Regions from separate parts of the Homo sapiens genome. Here all the other regions are reported to be linked to region 2. The links are microRNA targets in miRTarBase. Many come from high-throughput screens and were not tested one by one. Region 2 holds a microRNA gene; each other region holds the end of a gene's coding sequence.
What was found. Region 2 holds the annotated microRNA hsa-miR-505-5p (GGGAGCCAGGAAGUAUUGAUGU, at 4,683-4,704, shown strand). A microRNA usually pairs through its seed, bases 2 to 8, with sites in the 3' UTR of a target mRNA and lowers its output. Matches are read on the target gene's strand: a 7mer-m8 pairs with bases 2 to 8, a 7mer-A1 pairs with bases 2 to 7 and ends in A, and an 8mer does both.

Region 1: miRTarBase lists HEMK1 as a target of hsa-miR-505-5p. Seed matches in the 3' UTR shown: 8mer at 5,630-5,637, 7mer-m8 at 2,821-2,827, 7mer-A1 at 2,677-2,683 and 7mer-m8 at 2,558-2,564.
Region 3: the mRNA of TBC1D16 is a reported target of hsa-miR-505-5p. Seed matches in the 3' UTR shown: 7mer-A1 at 4,873-4,879 and 7mer-A1 at 4,909-4,915.

What each region holds. Positions count from the first base shown.
Region 1 is chr3:50,579,091-50,586,208 of GRCh38, reverse strand. HEMK1 (HemK methyltransferase 1, mitochondrial release factors N(5)-glutamine) reads right to left here. Exons shown (of 11, transcript NM_016173.5): 9 at 6,270-6,365; 10 at 5,980-6,093; 11 at 1-5,828. The coding sequence ends at 5,792. Among named protein-coding and RNA genes, the nearest start is that of HEMK1, 13 kb to the right of the region's middle. RefSeq lists enhancers at 1,541-2,059, 3,416-3,915, 3,916-4,417.
Region 2 is chrX:139,921,782-139,928,899 of GRCh38, reverse strand. MIR505 (microRNA 505) reads left to right here and starts at 4,669; the gene lies at 4,669-4,752. All of the region lies in intron 1 of ATP11C (ATPase phospholipid transporting 11C (ATP11C blood group)), which reads left to right.
Region 3 is chr17:79,934,849-79,941,966 of GRCh38, reverse strand. TBC1D16 (TBC1 domain family member 16) reads left to right here. Exons shown (of 12, transcript NM_019020.4): 12 at 860-7,118. The coding sequence ends at 1,108. Among named protein-coding and RNA genes, the nearest start is that of LINC01979, 12 kb to the right of the region's middle.

The sequences.
Region 1 (7,118 bases), not on the chromosome of region 2:
CCAAAGGTCCTTCCAGACACCTCAGGAGGGCCCTGGGGGGCAGAGGCTGGGGGCTGTACAGCCAATTACCTCAGAGGGGAAGGCACCCACTCATTCCGCAAGCGGGGGAAATCCTGCTCTCCTCCCACAGCTACCAGAGCTTCAGATGGGACTCAGATCTGTCTGCACACCCAGGGCTACAGTTGGCCTAATGTGACTCTTACCTGCCCATAAACCTGGCCCAGAGGGCTTTATGGGCCAGAATCCCTGGGTTTAGTAGCTACATGGACAGCCATATGAGCACCACCTAATTGACTTAATTAACTAACCCCAGGCCTTTGGAAGCAATAGGAGATGAGAGCATCATACTGGGAGTCAGGAGTCAAGTGCTGTGTTACTTCAAGTAAGCCCCATCCCTCTCTGGGAAAAAAGATCAGGGATTGAATATAAGTCTTGCCATGATCCACCCCTTCCAGTATAAACAGGCCCTCCTGGCTTCATCCAAAGCGTATCCAGGTGATTTGGGGCCAAGCTGACCCTTGAACCCAGGTGTCCATGCTCTCTGTCCCCCAGCTTCTCAGCTCTGAAACCCAGCATGAGGCCCATGTCTGGCCTCCCAGTAGCTCTCCATGTGGCTCCTGGGTTAGGACTGGCTTCAGGAGCCCCAAGCCTTGGCTGGGTGGGATGGTGTCTCCAGAGTCCTTTAGTACCCCTGGAAAGGGAGGTCCTAGTCCCAGCTTGGACAGGGACAGGGCTGAGGGCACCAGTTGGCCAATTCAGTTTTAGGAACCAGGAGGTTGAGAACCCCAGGGATAGCCCCACTCCACCATAGGAACAGAATGGTGACACAGCTCTGCTCAGGCCTATGGCTTACATGGAGGGGCCAGGCCCATTAGCTCAAAGTCAGGGGCTGCTGTGCTCATTTCACAGATGCAGTACCTGCAACCCAGAGAGTACAGGGCCCCTGCTCATCCTCACACACCCAAGGGGTCCTGGGCCAGTCACATAACTCCACAGGAGAGCAGGAACAGGCTTGGTCCCAGTCTCTGAGGTCCTCTCTGGACCCAGTCTCTGGAGATGGGCCATGGAGGCCAGCCTTGCACTTTCTCCCCACATCCCAGTCCCATTCCTCACCCACTCCCTTCTGGGACCCATGCTGGTCAGTCTTTCAGTCTTCTCACTCTGGGAAAGGGCCACCTCTCTCCAAATATGAGTAAAAAAAGGGGGGGCCTGGGCAGTTTAGGTCTGAAGGTTGAGGAAGAGTTCCCCTGGCCACATCACCTATCAGAAGAGAGGTGGTTAAGGCAATTTATCATGACTCTCAAAATTCTTCCAGCCTCTGCCCATTTCCACGTTGCAATTCCAAAGCCACTTCAATCAGTAGGCGTGTGTTACAGCAGCACTCTAATTTGGGCACCACAATCTATATTCGTTTCCCGTGGCTGCTGTAACAAATTATCACACATGTGTTTTCACACATGTGAAAACAACACAAATTTATGATCTTACTGTTCTGGAGGTCAGCAATCTGAAATCAGTTTCACAGGGCTTAAAATCAAGGTATTGGCAGGACTGCATTCTTCTTGAGGCCCCAGAGGAGAAGAGGCTGTCTGCATTCCTCGGCTCATGGCTCTTCCTCCAGCAATTGCATCACTCTGACCTCTGCTTCCATTGTTACATACATTTTCTTCCGTCACTCTGACACTCCTGCCTCCTTTACAGAGGCCCTTGTGATTATACTCAGTTTACCTGAAAAATCCAGGATACTCCTTCCATCTCAAGATCCTTAATCACATCTGCAAAGTCCATTTTGCTATGTGAAGGTAATATAGTCACATGTTAAGGTTTAGGTGATTAAGACACTGCCATTTTGGGGGGTCACTGTTCAGCCTACCAGAGCAGGGGTAGAGTTGCTTTGACAGTCCCAAATCCAGTTCAGGGGGCTTGTCCAGGGCAGAAGGTCATGAGGAGGAGATCAGGTCACTGTCCTAGCCAGGACTCTGGCTGGGGGCTGGCTGAAGCCAAGAGCTCCAGGAAACCTGGCGCCTGCTCCTACTGCCGCCAAGGACAGCCTGTTCTCCTGGTGTGGCTGTTGCGCAGGGATCAGGTGCACTTGAGTCTTCGAAGTGGCCATTGCTCAACTTGAATGGCTGCCTGGGTCGGGCAGAAGGCCAGGTCCTCATGGCTTCCCATCCCTAATGACCGGAATACATGGGCTGCCAGGTCAGATGTGGGCCACATGGGAAGTCCCAGCTCTATTCTAGAAAATGCATGTACCATCAGCTTACTGATAGACATTTACTGAACTTGGGTATGCCAGATCCACAGGGGGCCCCAGAGATGAGGGGGATAAGAAGGTTTCTGAAGGCATGGTACAGAAGGTGCCAGCAGAGGTATGGGCTAGGGGAGGCAGGGAGAGCACAGAGCAGGCATCCTAAAGGAGGCAGCATTTGTGTTGGAGCTTGAAGAAGTGGATTGTTTGCACCGCCTGGGCAAAGGGAAGGTGTGTGTTCAGGGCATCGAGAGTACTGCACAAAGGCTGAAGCCCAGGGCAGTAGAGAAGAGAATCCACTAAGAAGGAGCCAATGAAGAAAAAAAAGAGAAAAGAATCGAAGGTGGATAGGGAAAGACATGCTGTCCCGCAGAGGTTAAAGGGGTTCTCACCTCAAGCCAGCAGTTCTCAAACCTTGTCAGCAGTGGAGCCCTTTGTTCTGATGACAGCCTACTCAGAGCACTGATGGGGCCTTGGGAGGGGCCCCCAGGGCTTTTCCCACAGTTGTCCTCCCCCACCTCTTCAGAACTGGATTCCATAGGACACAAGAGAACACACTTAAGTCATGGGGAGCCAGCTAAGTGTTTGGGGCAAGGATTGGGAGCAGCCAATAGCCCAGGGTCCAGGTGGGGGTAAAGGAGCAAAAAAGAGTATTTTTTGCATTTAGGGGGTTCGGGGCCTATTTCAATAAGGCAGCTGTATGAGACCCATGGAGAAACCCACTGACAACTGGGAAAAGCATCCAACTGTGAGACAAGGCCTCAGTTTCCCCAACTATCAGAAGAGGAGATAGAATTACTCTCCCAGAGTACATCAAACAGGGACTCCTACACTCCTGTCTATGCTCTGGGCTCTGGCTGAAGGAGGCTGCACGGGCAGTGGGCACATCTCTCAAGACCTCAGGGGCTTGCACAGCCTGGACTCCATCAGCTCCATGTCCTCCTCCCATTCTGCCTGCAAGTGCTCCTTGACATATGCTGGTGGTGGTGGGGAGGCTGTTCGAGTCTCTGGCTTTGGCCTCAGGAGCAAGGGAGGGGATAGGGCAGGTGGGCCTGGCTTTCCCTGAGCTAGAGCCACTGGCTGCCCTGGCCTGGGCCTCAAGGCACTGGGGCCATAGTGAGGAGAGGCTGAGGGGAGATGTAGGCTGCCAGGCTACCAGCCTGCTGGCTCCATCTCTAGACAACAGTGAGGAGTCAAGAGCCCAAGACTGAAACTCCTGCCTTCCCTTCTTTCCAGACTGCCTTGTATCCCTGCCTGCCTTATGTTGGTCCCATGCATCAGATGGACGCCTGAGGGCACTGGGTCCTTCCTCCCTGTGTCTGCCCTCCGAGGAAGGCAAGGAAAAATGCCACAATGTGCCAAGCCAGGCACATCCCATGGGCTCCTCACATGCATCCTATAAAATAAAGCATTAAGTCCCATTTCTCAGCCTTAGAAGCCAAGGCTGAGTGAGGTGAAGTCATCTGCCCAAGGTCACATCCTCGTGAGGGGCAGATTCTGGGATTGAAATCCAGGCTGGTGTGGCTCCAACATCTGGGCTCAACGTCCAGGGCCCAATCAAGCCAGTGGCTGCAGGCTTGAGGCCCCGCCTGCCAGTCCTCTTGGCTTGGACCTTTTCCTCAGCAGAGTCAAGCTGCACATTTTTCTGGGCAGAAAGTTGTGCCCGAGGCCGGCTCCTGCTTGTGGCCCCAGCTGCCCCGACAGTGTCACTCTCCAACACTGCACTCTCTTCTGGTGCAACATCCACAAGCTCGCCAAGGCCCTTCCTCAGGAATGGGCCTGAGGCCAGGAGGGAGAGACCATCAGGGAAGCCAGGACTGGCTGAGGTGTAGGGGGGCGACAGACTGCTCCGAGGTCAGGGCAGCTACCCTGAGATGCTGCTGAAGACAGCAAGAGCCAAAGGGCACAAGGAGAAAGACAGAAAGGGCAATACTGGTGAGGACCTTAGCAGGCAAAGGTCTGTGAGCATGGGGGACTAAGGAAGTGGGGAGCCTTGCCCTGGTTGTGCACCCCCTTCGCCCTCCCCACCCAGGTTCCTTCTGGAGCAGCCTCCTTAAAGGAAGCCAGGGGCAGCTCAGAGTCCATGCAGCTGGGGCTGGGCACAGGGCAGGACACTGGGGCACTGGGAGCTGCAGTGTGACCTCTACCAAATGTGTCCTCCAGCCATAGTGCAGGGCAACACTTAGGCTGGGTATGACTCCAGCAATATAGGCTCCCCAAAGGGAGGGATCTAACTTACTGTCTCCACTTGGTCACTGTCATGTGACCTCAGGCAGTACATACCTTCTCTTGCTCTCCATGCCTGGCGAATGGACATTCAGATGCCAGCATGCACATTCCACTTGACTAAGAGTAAAGAGGTTGCCAGTTGGCGTTGGCCCTGGACTCAGAAGAGCCAGCTTCTCATAGGGAAAGGAGTTGCCCAAGGTCCCACTGCAGGACACAGCCCTGGAACTCAGCTCTCCCAGCTGCAGCAGAGGATGCTGCCTATTGGACCATACTGCCCATCAGACCATACTGCCAGGCCCTGGGAAGTGCCAGGGTGGCAGGGGGCAGTCTAGTGGAATGAGACAGCCTGGTTTGCCATGTTTCTTAGGACCCACCCTGATGTAGGCTCACATCACCAGCACTCACCAACCTAGAGATTTCCTGTCGCTGTTGACAGGAAGGCTGGATCTGCAGGCCTCCTGGTGGCCATGAGTCTGCACAGACCAGAGCTGGGGTGGAGGCCACAACCCTGTGCCCAGTATCTCAGCTTCTCACTCTCCCCAGCCCCAACCAGGGACACATGGGTTATTTGAAACCCCAGGGGGTCAACTCGGGAGGGATGTTTTAGCTAAAAGCTATGGGGATAAAAAGGAAACACCCCTCACTGGCTCAAGCCTTCAGTTAAATGAACGTGGATGTGCGACCCAGGAACTGTGCAGCAAAGACCTCCAGACCCTCCCCTCCAGAAAGCAGGCAGTCATCCTTGAGCCAAAACGCAGATGAGCTTCCTGTGCTCGAGCCAGGCTTGGCCAGGGAATTGTGTACGCATGCACCCAGGGCAGTGGAGGACTAATCAATCCCTGGGAGTGAGCTGCTCTATGCCAGGACCCATGGTATCCAAGGCCAGGAGTGAGGACTCACGTGCCTTCCTCCACACTGCACCCCCACACCACTACCAAGCAGGGGACTGACGGCCAGCCCTGCTGGGGCAGAAGGAAACCCTTGCCCCAGTGCTACCTGGGAGTAAGGGGGTCAGGGGACCTGCAAGTCATGGACAAAACATTAGGTCACCATTTGTTAGTCTCTCAATACTTTACTGGCCATATCCCCCGATACCCCCACAGCAATTTCACCAACACAGAGCAACTGCCCTCAGCCACTCTGATGTGATGGAGCCAATCCAGGTGTCCTAGAAATATCCTAGAAATGCAGAGCATGGGGAAATCACAGAACCCTGGGAAATGCCATAAGAACCTGGGCTCTGGAAAGTGCCATCCACCTCCCCTCTGGTCAGGCTGGCGGCACTGACAAGGCATCCACAGGGCAGCCATGCTATGGCCCAGACCTCCGGATATGCAGGAACCGGGGCCTGAGGAGACAGGGACAGGGGCTGGTTACCACCTGGGCCTCAGGGAATGAACAGGAAGTGGGAACAGCACACTCTCCTGACAGCCAGGGCTGAGGATGGCCCCAGTGGAAAGACCAGCATGCTACAGGGCTAAAGGGGGCTAGGATCTTACCTCCCACAGAAGTCCCTGCGCACAGCCACAAGATTAAGGTACAGGTCAGGCCGGCTCTGAAGCCAGCTGCTGACAAGCTCCGGGTGCCTTGGGTCCACTTCTAAGAAGATACTACTACATGGGGGAGAAATGGGTGGGCTCAGCAGGACAGGTCTGGCGCCTGCCCTTCTGGGCTGCTTGGGCTGGCGAGGTGAGGGTCCTGTGCTGACCTCTGCCAGGGCCTGCCCAGTACACATTAGGAGCAGAGGAGCCTGCTGGGGACAGACCTAGGAGACCCATCCCATTCATACCCAGAGTCTTTCAGGAGCCGGGGTGCCAAGGCCAGAATGTGGGTAATGATGTCCATGCCCTCCTCCCCACCATCCAGGGCCGCGGGGTCTTCATAGCTGAAAGGCAAAGCAGTGGGAGGTGACAGCCTGAGAAAGGGGTATCTGAAATGCATGGAGGGCATGGGCAAGGCCTCCATGAATGGGGCCCTGTGGAACTTACACTCTGGGCTGAAGGGCAAATCTGAGGACCCAGAGAAGGAGGGCCCCAAATGGGTGGCAGCTCCTCTTCTCTTCCTCCCATGGGCAGCACCCTACCAGGCAGCGCCAGGCATGCTTGCTGAATCCCACTGGCTGATGGCCTCTCTTGATGCACTGACTCATGTCAGGGCATGAGTGTCTCCCCACAGGCTGCTCCTCTTCTTGGTCTGGGAGATCTGGGGCTAGCCCTGACCACTCCTGAGAGCCCAGAAAGGGAGAGCCAACACCCCAGCCCCATCCAACATGACTGCTGCCCCATCCAGGACTCCTGGGCTGCCCCTGGTTCTCAGCCCCTGTGTAAGAGCAGGATGGCCTGGCACAAAGCTAGCCTGGGGCCAGCTTTTAGTCCCGGCTTTCCCACTGAGCCCCCATGCGACCACAGACAAGACACCTTCCCTCTCTGGGCCTCAGTATTCTATAAAATGATGCGCCCATCTACTGAGCACCCTGTATGAGCCCTCCACTGTGTTTGATGCTTTCAAGTCGTCACTGAGTCCTCCCGTGGCCCTGCAGAGCACTACCTCTCTTTTTCTAGAGGCAGGAAACAGGTCCAGAGAGGTTCGGTGGCTGTCCAGTAGTTTTAGTAGGAAGTAAGGAAGTAGGAAGGTAGAA
Region 2 (7,118 bases):
GAGATTTCTTGATAAAGTAGGTTGGGGGCTTGGTCAAGAGGATGCTGTCAGTTTAGCTTGTCAGTGATAGTTAACAGGTATGCATTTCTAGACCTTTGATACATGAAAGCTTAATTGTGAGTGTGAAATACTGGAGTACATTTAAATCTCTGATTCTAGAAGCCCTTAAACTGCTTTGGTTTCATAAAGCATGTAGCATATAATCATAATATCACACAGAAGATGCCCAGGACTAGGAAGAAATTAGACTGCATAAGGAAGAATGGAAATTTAAAATAAGACTAAAAAATACAAAATAAGAATTAATGAAATAGGTAGCTAATTTATTGCTTTGAGTCCAAGGCAAGGCTAGTCTAATGAAGCAATATATGGAGGCAATTAAGAAAATAGTTCAGGTAATTGCTTTGTTTTTTCCCCAGGAGCAAGAAGGTTTTTAGTTTCCCCTTTAAACTATCAGAGTAATTAAACATTTTTTTTTTTCTGTTTCACTTTACTAATAATCCTGGCCTGACATTGACGAGCGGGAAAATATTGATTTTATTTTACTGTGTTTAGAAATATATCTGTATGTATGTATTGCAATATTTTTACATTTGCACAACTATTACAAATGGTCTGTGTATCTCGGCTCCCACATGGCTGTTCATAGAGGTCTAGGTTTAGCAGTTGAACTTGACCATACTTAAAAGCAACTTTTTTTTTTTAAATCATATTGTGTTATAATTGCCTTTTAACTTGTATGGCTCCCTAGTCTTTCTCAACATGGAGAGAATTGGCACTGATGCCCTAGGACATGCATTGTTAGTAATAAATTAACATTTTCCTGCGCAGCTGGAGTGAAGGAACCCTAATTGAGAAAGGCTGTCCTAGACAGGGACAGTTCACAGTGTGTTCTTAGCTCCTAGCACAGTGCCTGGTCCCTAGTAGGTGTTCAGTAAAATATTTTTTGAAAGAACAACTTTTGTATGTATCCCATAAATAATAACCTTTACTTACAGATAGTGATTATTGTAAACCCGCTCTTATGCAGAATGAGCAAAGAATGAGTTCTTGTTAGTTGGGGTATACCGTATACATTACTAGTATTCTAAGAATTAGAATAAATACATCTAATGCCGAAAGCTATACTGACCATAGTATAATCTTTTTTTTTTTCCTTTTTTTTGAGATTTATTATGGGAATTGGATCATGCAGTTACAGAGGCTGAGAAGTCCCAGGATCTGCCATCTGCATGAGCCCGGCCACAAAATATCCCCTTCTTTTATTTATTTTTATTTTTATTGTTATTTTTTTTGAGACAGAGTCTTACTCTTGTCATCCAGGCTGGAGTGCAATGGCACGATCTTGGCTCACTGCAACCTCCGCCTCACGAGTTCAAGCGATTCTCCTGCCTCAGCCCCCCTAGTAGCTGGGATTACAGGCGCCTGCCACCACGCCTGGCTAATTTTTTGTATTTTTTAGTAGAAACGGGGTTTCACCATGTTGGCCAGGCTAGTCTCGAGCTCTTGACCTCAGGCGATTTCCCTACCTCGGCCTCCCAAAGTGCTGGAATTACAGGCAAGAGCCAGCATGCCTGGCCTCTTTCTTAGATGATTAAGGCATTGTATGGTTTTGCAGAGCAATTATCATTCAGCAAATATTCACTGAGCACCTACTATGTGCTGGGCACTGCAGTCAATCCTGGGGTCGTAGATGAGCAAGACAGACAAGGTTCCTGTCTTCCTGAGCTGTAATTATCATTACATACACAACTATAGATATAGAGGGCATGGTAACTGCATTGCATTGAATACATTTGTGACATACCATGAAATTTGATCTTTGTGAATAAGTTACTATTACATACTTGTCATTTTTCTTTCTACTAAAAATAGATTGTACAATATCAGTTATTTTCTGGTTGTTTGGATGTCAGTTAAAAAGGAGTTTCTTGCATTTGTCTCCTTTCATCTGACCTACGCATGGCAAACTGCTCTTTTGCAAATAGATGCTAGGCTGACCCCACGCAAGGTGGGAAACTTATTTAGAAATGAACCACTGTAACTTGAAATAAATCTTTACACAAGTGAAAGCAGGTTTTGTCTTCTTTTTTCCTGATCTACCTTTTAGTGACTAAGCAACATAAAACTCTGAATGTGTCCTGAATACTTTCTGTAAGTGTTTACTGTTTGTTCCTTTTGTTTATGCTTATTGCTAATAATTCAGCCATTTAGTGAGTAATATTGAGTGCCTATATACCAGGTAGTTTCCAGTGTTCCTAATTAACTTTTAGCTGAATTGAGATTTGGGCAGGTGAAGCTGGCCATTTTTATATTGATGCAACTGTTCAAAAGAGCTTGTTTTTTCAAAAAGCTGCCAGTTTACCACCTGCTGAGCAGTGGGTTCTAGGAGGTAAAGGATGGCCAGTGGCCCCTGAAAGAACCATAACTAACCTTGCTGTGTCTGCATGATGTGCAAAGAACTAGCCCACTGAGTGAAATCAAATACTGGTTTGTTGAGTGATGGAAAAAATCAAGGCTCATTGCTTGTCTAACATGGTTATTCAGTTCTCTCAAAGAGGGTGAATGCATGGGATATAAAAAAAAAATACTATTTTTTTCTTCAAGGTGGTGGAATTTCCTGTACATCTGTAGTGCTTTATACAGATGAACCTTTTACATCTGGAACCCTCGAGACTGGGGGAGTTTTTCTGGTTAGGTGGAGGGAGGTTCTGGGCTTCCACAAATGAATTAGGTGCTGGCTCTCGAGTTTATTTCCTTTCACTTAACATTTACCTTCTTGGCCTGGTATAAGGGTAGATTAGCGGTGATCGTAAAACAAAACATACTGGCACAACTGCAGCATATGTTAACACTGCTGCAGCTTAATGATGAATGAGTGCTCAGCACTGCAGATATGGGCACAGGATGCCCTATGCCCACACATTGGCAGACAGCCCCTCAATTATTGCAGTGTATGGACGGATTACTGGGTCGGCTGACTTCTTGATAATAGAAGATGTGATTTATAAATGATAATGGACCGTGGATTTCCAGATTTAGAAGGTTAACCTGTATTTGTGAAGTAGAAATCATTGATTTCTTGTGCCATATGTATTTAATGGAATATGGGAGGATTGGTGATGTTGATGATATTGCTGTTCAAGCAGATATCATCATTTGTTTTTTAGACGTCTCTATTATATGTTGTCATAAAGTATTAATGTGGCAATGTTTTCCTAGTCCCTTTCTCTTTACCAAGGTATTCTTGGAAAAATCAGAAGTGTTCTTGAAAATGATCTTGCAGTTAGCACAGCATCAGGTAAACAGTAGATGTTCAATTAATACTTGTTTAATTGTTTTGAGCTGAATTGGTAACACAGTCTGAGTCAGTAATAACAGATGAAGAATGATCAGTTTAGGAAGCAGCCACCAAGAAGCTTATGCATTTCAGACTGGGCTACAAAATTAGCCAGGAGTGGTAGCACAGGCCTGTAATCCCAGCTACTTGAGAGGCTGAGGCGGGAGAATCACTTGAACCTGGGAGGCAGAGGTTGCACTGAGCCGAGATCGTGCCATTGCACTCCAGCCTGGGCAACAAGAGCAAAACTCCATCTCAAATAATAATAATCCTGTATGCTTACTATAAATACAGATTCCTGGGCCTTGAACTTACTGAATCCAAGTCTTGGGTGACAGACTCCAAGAAACTGTTTTTAACAAGCATTCCAAGTGGTTCTTAGGTTCACTAAAATTTGAGAACAGCAATATATAATATAGTAAACACGGAAATATTTATTTTCTGGGCACACTCTCTGTTCACCTTTTTGAACTTCAGTTTCTTCATCGATAGAATGGGAATAATAATACCTATTTCACAAGACTGTTGAAAAAAACGTTTGGTAGACTATTCAACACTATACCAATTGTGACAGAGGTCCTCAAAACCGGCCTAGGTTTGTTGATTCACTGGCAGAACTCAGTACATAGAAACGCTTGCGGATGTGATTTATTATAGCAAAAGGATACAGAGCAAAGTCAGTAACGGGAAAAGGCTCATTGGGGCCAAGTCTGGAGGAAACCATGTGCAAGCTTCCAGTCCTCTTTCACTGAAATCACACAGGTCATGCTTAATTCCTCTAGCAAATGAGTTTTGACAACTTGTGTGAAATGTCTACTAGGGAAGCTTATTAGAGATTCAGTACCCAGGGTTTTTAGTGGGAGCTGGTCACACAGGCACCCTCCACCTGGTACACAGCAAAATTCCAGACCCCAAGGAGGAAAGCAGGTATTCAGTGTAAACCCTATTGTTTACACAGCTTAAGCAGAGTGAGCCACTCTTATCAGGGTGATGGAAACCCTCCCAAAATCCAAGTCCCCAGACACCAGCCAAGGACCAACCTTGCAAACAGGCCTTACTAAGAATAGCAGTGTCAGGCCTGCTATGTTAACTCTTTCCATCACGCAAATATTGTGAAACACTGGTATTTTTTCAGTGAAAGGAAATGACTTGTCCAAGATCATTAAGCTAATCAGCAGTACAGCTGAGACAGACTCCCAGCAATCACATCTTTTCTTTGCTGCCCATAGCCATGCTTCTAGATTATGGGTCATTCCTTTTCATACTGTCATTGAAAGCACTTACTGTTTGTCACTTGAAGCAGAAGAGCAGCCTGCCGGTGGTAAATTGATGCACCCAGTGGGGGAGCCAGGAAGTATTGATGTTTCTGCCAGTTTAGCGTCAACACTTGCTGGTTTCCTCTCTGGAGCATCGCCAAGTTCGTGGATTTTCATTTTTCCTGACTTTTGGACTTTTGTTACTGCTCCCATTCATTTGCTCATAGTCCTAATACTCATTTGCATCATCACTTCATCCCATTCTATACCTTTTGGGTAACACAATTTCCAAATGGTGGGAATACTGCAGTATTTTGTCAAAGAAGACTATATAGGAAAAAAAAAATTCTGAGCAATGAATTTTATGGCAATATTTACAAATATTGGTTTATATCCTGGATTGTCTTTTGAGTTTTATAGTCATGGAAAACCCTAGGGATATCTCTGGTTATTTGGAGTTTCAGCCATTTTTACTGTTATAAAGGAAAATTAACAAATTTGTTATGATTGGAGCAAGGAATAAGGAAATCATACTGGATGGTGCAGTAATCCCACATATCGACAGGGAGTAGAAGCCAGGAGGGAATTGCCACAAGTAAGTAACAGCTGGGTAGAGCAGATTATGTAAGCTACACCTGTTGTGTAAGCAGTGGGGACGTTCTTTAAGCTTCACAATTAATGTATTTTGCAGTAATAAGGATTAAGGGATCTATAGTATAGTGTACAATTTATTCTGGCTTCTTTTCTGAAAACATTCATGTGAATCACAGCTTTCTTGGAACACTCATCCCCTATTTGGTGCTGTAGAGGTGTGTAAGGTACAGCCCTGCTCACCAGTAGCCTGCAGTTTGGTAGAAGAGAGAGAAGACCAGCACACAGGACCATCCTCCACACAAGGCCAGTAGGTCACCAGAGCCATCCTTTTGAAGGACATACACAGTAAGTGCAGTAGGCATTCAGAAGGAGGCACTGGCTCTCTGGCTTCATTTCTTGGGGAGAGCTTTATGGAGGAAGTAGCCTGTCAACTGGGCCTCTGGGGACCCAAAGGGCTGAAGGTTCTGAGATTTTAGGGATGGGCAGTCTCATTACAGGAGGAGGCAATTACCTGAGCAATGGTGCAGGGTCATTGTTGTACTTAAAGCATGGGAACCAGTCAATTTAGAGAACATACATGCCAACCCCAAATGAGTTTGAGCTGTTATAAAAAAAAGTATAACAGGTGGGGCTCAGTGGCTCACGCCTGTAATCCCAGCACTTTGGGAGGCTGAGGCAGGTGGATCATTTGAGGTCAGGAGTTCAAAACCAGGCTGGCCAACATGGTGAAACCCCATCTCTACTAAAAACAAAAATTAGCCAGGTGTGATGGAGAGCACCTGTAATCCCAGCTACTCGGGAGGCTGAGGCTGGAGAACTGCTTGAGCCAGGGAGGTGGAGGTTGCAGTGAGCAGAGATGGCACCACTGCACTCCAGCCTGAGTAATAGAGCGAGACTCTGCCTCAAAAAAACAAAACAAAACAAATAAAAAGTATAACATAGATTCAGTGGCTTATGCACAACAGAAATTTATTTCTCACAATCCTGGAACTTGGAAGTCCAAGATCAGGATGCCAGCATGGTTGGGTACTGGTGAGGGGGCTTCACGTCGCAGACTGGTGACTTATTGTATCTTCACATGGCAGAAAAAGAGTGAAATGAGCTCCCTAGGGCACTAATCCCATTTATGAGGGCTCCACCTTCATGGCCTGATCACCTGTCAGATGCCTCACCTCCTAGTACTGTCACCTTGGAAGTTAGGATTTCCACATAAGAATTTTAGGGGAACACAAACATCCTGTCCATGACACAGCAGAAACACCAAAACCTCGATCTTCAATGCCTTACGTTTGCTGTAGTAATTTTGATTTTAAAAAAGGAGATGCTAAAAACAGGTGGCTTTAGGTCTCCACAACAATAGCTATAGGAATCTTCCCATACATAGATGCTCTTTTCTGAAACCTATGACTCCAGTAAATTTATGTCATTTAAAAAAAATGCATATATATATATATATATATATATATATATATATATATATATATATTTAGAGAAGGAGAGAGAGAGAGAGACAGTCTTGCTCTGTTGCCCAGGCTGGAGTGCAGTGGCACAATCTCGGCTCACTGCAACCTCTGCCTCCTGGGTTCAAGTGATTCTCCTGCCTCAGCCTCCTGAGTAGCTGAGACTACAGGCGTGTGCCACCACACCTGGCTAATTTTTGTATTTTTAGGAGAGACAGGGTTTCACCATGTTGGCCAGGCTGGTCTTGAACTCCTGACCTCAAGTGATCCACCTGACTCAGCCTCCCAAAGTGCTGGGATTACTGGCGTGAGCTGCCATGCCCGGCCTTATTTGGTGCAGAGACAGTAAGGCAGAGACCAGGATGAAATATATATTTGGGGTAATATATCATGACACTACTTCATATATTATTATAGGACTGCTTACTTAGTTACCCTGCTTAAATTATGGGTACACATTTCTGGTAA
Region 3 (7,118 bases), not on the chromosome of region 2:
TGGGCCCCGCCCCCAGAGCCCCATCCCCACCATGGCCCCCCAGCACGTGCCCTCCCCCACCCATAGCACTGGGGGCTCCCCACTAAGGCCTCGTGGTCAGCACCTGTCTCGGCCTGGCTGTGTCACCTCACTTTCCTGGGGTGCCAGCCCTGACACAGGAGCCTCCCTCGCTGGCTGAGGAGGGAACGAATTCACCGGGGCTGACGGACAGGACAGGTTCCCTACCCTGGGGTACCTCGCTTACAACCCAGAACTGGGAACACTGAGAAGGAGGCTGGACCTGGGGACAGGGTGGCCAGAATACTGGGGACCTTGGGCTTTGGCCCCCTCCCCCACTTCCCAGACGCCTCCTGGAGATGCTGCCCGTTAGCTCTCTGGTGGTCCTCAGGGCACTGAGCGGGGGTCCCGAGGTCGGTGGTGTCCTCTGGCACAGGACACAGATCCTGCAGGAGCTGAGAGGCTGCTGGGGGTGGGGGGTGGAGCAAGGTGCGGGGGAAGAAGAGAGGGGTGCTGCCAAAGGGACAGGTGGGCTTGGCTGGACGCCACCCGGCCCTGTGCTGGTGTTGGTCCTGTTCACCCTCCTGAATGAAGCCCATTCAAGGGCCTTGTTCACCTCGAGCCACCTGTGAGCACAGCCCGAGTGCCTTGTGGGTCCCATCACTGCAGCCACCTAAGACCCAGGGCCCCGTGGTGCCGGTGATGGTGGGAGATGCAGGCAGAGCCCTCAGTCCAGGACTCGGTGAGCCCCCGAGGTGCAGGCCGTTGTTGCTGCTGTTGCTGTCTTTGGCCACTCCCATGGGGACCCTAGGCTGCCAGGCTGTCCCCCGGCCCCTCCTCACCCCCCGTCCTCTGTCTGCAGGCGAGGAGTTTGCTGTACCAGTTCCGCCTCCTGCCCCGGATCCCCTGCAGCCTGCACGATCTGTGTAAGCTGTGCGGGTCAGGCATGTGGGACAGCGGCTCCATGCCCGCGGTGGAGTGCACCGGCCACCATCCCGGCTCGGAGAGCTGTCCCTACGGGGGCACGGTGGAGATGCCTTCCCCCAAGTCCCTGAGGGAAGGCAAGAAGGGCCCAAAGACGCCGCAGGACGGCTTCGGCTTCCGCAGATAGGTCGGGCCCCCGACACCGGACAGGGGTTGAGGGGACCTCCTCAGAGGCCCTGGGCACGGGAGGGGGTGGGGCTGGGCGTGAAGGGGACAGGGGACGGTAGAAACCTAAGGAAAATGCTTTTGGGCAACATGAGAGGAACCTTTTCATATTAATGACAAAATTAGAGTCTGGAAGTGACAGAAGTCAGATCTACAGCCACCCAGAGGAAAGTCAGCTCCTGAAACGCTGCAGTGGAACGCGCAGCCACCGCACCTGAGACGCAGGCTGGCTGGGCTCTCCTGCTGGCTGCCCTGGAGGATTTCAACATGTCCCAGGATTTGCTCCACCCTCGAGGGCAGCCAGACAGCGTCGCCAGGCAATGAGGAAAGCAGAGACAGGAGAGGAAGGCCTCACTCACCCACTGCGTCGAGGGCTGCAGAACACAGCGGGGTCCTGTCCAGGCCCAGGGACATCTTTGCAAGCCAGACACACTTCCTCTTGAGACCTCGTTCTCTCGGAGTGAGCCAAACACACTTCCCAAAACGTCCCCAGCCACAGCTGGGATGCCGATGGAAAGGCATCTGCCATAAAAGAAAAGCAAAAGATAAAAAGCCCAACCGATGTGGGGATAGAGAGGCGGAAGAGCAGTCAGGCTTGAGGAGCTGGCGCTTGTAATGTTTATCCGTTTAAACATTTCGTCCTCCTGGTACACGAAGGGAACTGTCTGCCCAGGAGCCTGAGCCTCAGGCTGTTGGAGAAGCATCTGATGCCTTTTTCTTTGCTGGGGGTCTTCTACGTGAGGTTCCTTGGCGTTGTTTAAGGTCAACTCCACCAAATACAGCAACCAGCTGGGGCTTGAATGGGTCGATGTGTGCGTGTGTCCCTGCGTGCATGCATGCATGCACACGTGCGTGCGTGTTTGTGTTTGCAAGATCCTCTGACAATGATCTGCTTTGTCCCAGGGACGTGGTAGTGTATTAGCTGACCAACCAAGACAAGGACACCTGGAAATAGTTAGACTCTTCCACTTCCCTTCAGGACCTGTGAACTCAGATATGTAAGTCAGCTTCTCAGGTGGTCGGACGTGAGAGCGACCACAGTGAAGGAGCCAGCACTCAGGGCTCTCTGCCTTCTATGTGGGAATGAGGTCTTCCCAACAGACTCTCCCTCTTCCAAAAGATTGTGTATCAGTTGCTCCTTCTGGGATTTAGAGATGGACAGAAAAGGGTGTGCGATCTATGCTGTGAGAACTCCCAGCCAGCTTAGAAGTGTCGAGCCATTTGCACAGAAAGCCACTCCTTGAGCGAGGAGACCAAATCCCTCCTGAAATCCTCCATCGCGTCCTTCTGGGGAGAAAAACCCTTGATGTGCTGAGAACCATCATGGGGACCAGGATAGAAGGCTTCTTCCCACTCAAAGCTTTTCTCCCTGGAGGGTGGGCACTGCTGGGCCATGCCACTTCAAAGCAGTGTTCCTCAGCAGGAAAGCGGAGGTCACCACTTACCGGCCTCCTCCACCTTCTCGGCTTCTCTTTTCTCCATGAACCCAGGTCGTCCAGCAGGTACTTCCAAGTTCCCAGGTCTGTCTGCCTAAGAGCCTTTTGAGGAGACCGTCCTGGAGCCCCATCAGTGCCCAGATCCTGGGGTACCGACCATTGCTGTCTAGCAGTGGGGGATCCTGTGGTGGGAATGGGGTGGGCTTCTCATCCATGTTGCTTCTGGGAAGAGAGGGTTGCCTTTCTGGGCTAGGGAGGTGGCTGGAGCTTCTGCCCTGACCCTCCGCTAGAAACCAGTTATATCCATTGCCACAGCAATACTGTGTAACAAATCCGCCAACACTCGGTGGCCTGCAACAGTCAGCACTGATCTAGGGCAGGAGTCAGCAGTCTGGGCAGGGTGATTCTTCTGGTCTAGGCTGGGCTTGTTTGTTTAGGGCCAGTGGGTTGTTAAGTCCCAGGGGATGCTCATGGTGCAGAGGTCGGACCTGGCCCTGCTCTGTGGTCTCTTGCATCCCTCCTGCAGGCCAGCCATGGCACAGCCAAAGGCACGGAGGGAGAGACAGCAAGTGCCTTTCCAAGCCTTGGTGGACACCACACCTGCAGCTCTCCCCTTGGCCACAGCAAGTCACGTGGCTGGGCTCAGCATTAAGGGGTGGGGGACAGGCCTGCCACTTTATTGTCCGCTCTGCACAGTCGGGTGGCAGTAGGCTGAGAATTTGGAGGGCTAAACAACTGGGACTCTGGAGAGTCTGTGTCCTAATAATGCCTGCTTTGGAGCACTCCTTCCCCACCCGCCTGCTCCAGGGGAATAGCGTCCCTGGTCCTAGCATTTCACTAGATACCTCGTGCCTTTGAACCGCTGTGTTTGGGAGGGAGGAAGAGGATAGACAGGTCCAGGGCTCCCCTCACTTGGGAAGGTCCTAGTAGAAGGCATTCCTTCTGAGTCTCCTGGCCCTACAGCTTCTCACCCCTGCTGCTCCCCAAGACCTGACCCGGACCAATCAGCTGCATCTCTGCACCAAGTGCCACCCCCACCGTGCACTGCTCGCACCTCACGCTCCCCATGGGCTGGCCCGGACCCCAGTGAGGTCTGCACCTCTCGGACCAGCCAGGACCTCGGAAGCCATGAGCTGGGTGTTCAGGGCTTGGCGGAGGAGACGCTGCTCCGCGGGGGATGGAGAAGCCCCGCCCCTCCACAACTCCCTTAATCTGGATGCAATTAGAGGAAACCAGCCAAAAACCCCGCGGCAGCTGTTGCCCCGGGATTATTCCCAGCCAGCGAGAGGCATTAGGGCGATAATTCAGTCATTAGACTTCTAGCCTTCCCACCGCCAGAACGTGCAAATAGGGGATAATCAGCCCTGCACGGCCATCCTCAGCAATGCTGCTTATTTAACCCATTTTTTAAAATGACACTTAATGTTATTGGCTGGCGTACGTGTGTGCGCATACTTAAAAGTTGATGCGTGGTGCAGCTCTGCTGCTAATGTCTGCTGACAGCGTCGCCCGATGTTGCTCAGGGCCTCTGGGAAGAGGGGACACCTTTGATGTGGGCGTGCTGGCACCCAAGAGGCAACGTGGTCAGGCTCGATGCTTGCCAGCCCTGGAAGGTCCCGCCAGGGTTGGGGGGTCGGGTGAGCACTCAGAGATCTGGGGAGGAAGCGAGGAGCCTGGTGTCCTCACCAGGTGCAGAGGGGAAATGCGTACTGCTCCAGAAGGTTCTGACTCAAGTCTCGGCCCTGAGGACTCAGAACTCACAAGTCATGGATCAAGTACAGAGGGAGGGAGGGCCCCAGCCCACCCCTGCGGGGGAGGAGGAGGGTCTGAAGGTGGGAGGGCAGCTCCATGAGCAGCCACTGTTCCTGACCAGCCGAAGTGCCAGGCAGGGGGAGGTTTCCATGTCCAGGAGGGAGAGGACCTCCACCCTCTGACCTTTCAGTTTTCCATAGCAGCCCAGTGTGAAGCTCGGCGGGGGTGGGCAGGGCATCAGGACAAGATGAAGATGCTGGCTCTGGAATGAGGACTCCCCTTGGGCTAAGGGGTAGTGGCTGGCAGAGGTTGCCCAGCTCTTTTGGAGGCCACAGGGAATAGAGGTGGGGTGGTGCTTCCGTTCCTGTGAGGCCCGCCCCCCTGAGCCCCCTCGTCTGCTTCTTGTTTGGCAGAAATAGATGTGGGGCACAGCCCCTAGATGATGGGAATCTGCCCAAGCTGTGCCCTCTGGGGAATGAAATCTTGCTCCTCGTGCAGCTTCCCCTTTCCCTTGCGGGGTGGGGGCTGGGGGTGCCAAGGCTCCACCCTTGGAGGGGGTTGCTGGGGGTGCCAAGGCTCCACCCTTTGCTCGCTGGGCAGAGGGAAGGAAGCACCTCCCTGTATGCTCTGCAGGGGCCCCTGCAGGCCACTTTGCCTCAGAGGAAGGAGGAGAGGTCCCCTGGGAAAATGCGCACACACACACACACACACACACACACACACGCACATGCACACACGCACGCATGCACACACACACACACATATGTGCAGGGGTGCAGCCTAAGTCAGTGGAGCCAGGACTGGCTGCGCAGCTGGGCCTGCCCCATTCTTGGAGTCCCCAGGGAATGAGCCTCAGGATCCACTTCGTCCCTTGTTTCTAAGCCAGGCTGCACGGCCGTTCCTGGGTGTGAAAGCATTCTGTCCTGTCTCCAGTCAGAGGGAACCGCCCCCAAACTAGAAAGCTAATTTCCCCCGAAGGTTCATGAAGCCAGAGGCATGCCCTTGGGGGTTGGTCGGGAGAAGGGTGAGAGGCAGTGCTGTGGAAGGGGCCTGGCCCCTGCTGCCTGCGATTCTCCCCGGGTATGTGGCCTTCTGCCTCCTTCAGCCTCAGTTTCCTCACCTGTAACATGAGAATAATGATGCCTGCCTGCCCAGGCCACCTCCTGGGAGTGCATTGGGGACTCTAAGTGTAAAACTGTCATGAGGATGGTTTATGAAGTCCCAGGGACCACACCTGCCACTCAGGGAAGAGACCGCTGACCTCAGCCATCAGCCGTGTGCATCGTGAGGGGCAGCGAGCTCAGGACGGAGAGCTCTCCCTTGGTTCGGAGTCAGCACACCTGCACTCCCACACGCCCACCCAGCTGTGTGTCCTCCGCCGAGGGCGAGCCTCTCTGTGACTCTTCTGTAAAATGCACCCCATTCTGCCCACTCCTGCCACGAGACCCATCCTCTGCGATCCCGCCAGGCATGTGTGTGTGAATGCATGTGCAAAGCTCTCCATCAGAAGGGTGGTGTGGGCCCTGCAGGTCCTACCCCTCGGCCTTGAAGCTCCCTCGGGCTGCGGACTCTGCCTCCTGGGTCTGAGCATTAGAACCAGGAGAGGGGTGTCCCTGGGCAGAGCCAGGGGTGCAAACAGCCTGCAGCCATCTGGCCTTTTAAGTATAGTGTGTCGCATTTCCGGGTAGGAAGGTAGCATTTCAAGTTCAAAGAGAGGTCAAGTCATGCAACCATCTTTCCTCCAGCACTTTTGGGGTAAGGAGGACAGTTTTTGTTATGGTTTAGGGGAAATTTTCATGAAATTTCCACCATTACCAATAGATTACTGATGTCCATGGCAAGTGATCTGTTCTTGGTATTTTGTTTTGTTTTGTTTTGGTTTTTAAATGTAATCACCCATTGGTCAGGCCCAGGACTGGTCACCATGAGCTCTGCTAGCCACGGCCCCAACGATGCTTCCGGCTCTCATGGATTCCACAGCAAATAAAACTGTACTGACAACAGATGCACGCTGTACAGTGCCTCTGGAAGGTGCGGTGGGACTTGCTGGGTCAAAGCACGGCAGGCTCTGTGCTGGGCAAACAGGGCCCCGTGGCAGCCCAAGGGCAGCCTGCAGACGCCAGTGTGCCCGGCTTCTCCCATGTTCTGAGATGGGGGAGGGGAAGGTGTAAAAGAGAGCTGGATGGGGGCTGTGGGGACTGAGGGTCCTGGGAGGCTGGCCAGGGGCTCAGCAAGCGCCCACTTTGGGAGGCCTTGCCCTCTGGGCTGTGGTTGGACAGCACTAGGCCTGCAGGCTGGGCTGCCAGGAGGAAGAGCAGCTCCGGACCTCAGGCCCCCCCAGCAGGCGGCGATGGAGGGTGATGGGAGAATTGACGAGTGCTCGCGGGGTCTCACTCGGGAAAGGGCCGGTTAACTCTGAGCAACTGGGAGCCTCGCTCCCACCCCAGTGCCTGGAAACACAAACAGTATTTTATTGAGCCTTGGCTGCCGGGGCTCTGGTTTCAGGAAAAGCCTCAGTCCTGCATTTGTGAATTTTTAAGGAGGCAAACAAGGTGAATTTGACCTTCCTAGGAGTGGGAGTTAGGGAAAATTCAGGCTGCCCTACCAAGCCCTTGGAACCGTGCAGCAGGGGTCAGGGGAGGGATGGGCAAAGGCGGTTTGGCCCATGGAGCAGGTCTCCTGGTCCTCCCGGAGCACGGGGGGCGGGGAGCTCCAGCTCTTCATCAAGCGCCCTTTGGGGTTTCCAACTGTTTTCTGTTGTTCTCTGTGTGTCTTTTCCCCTTT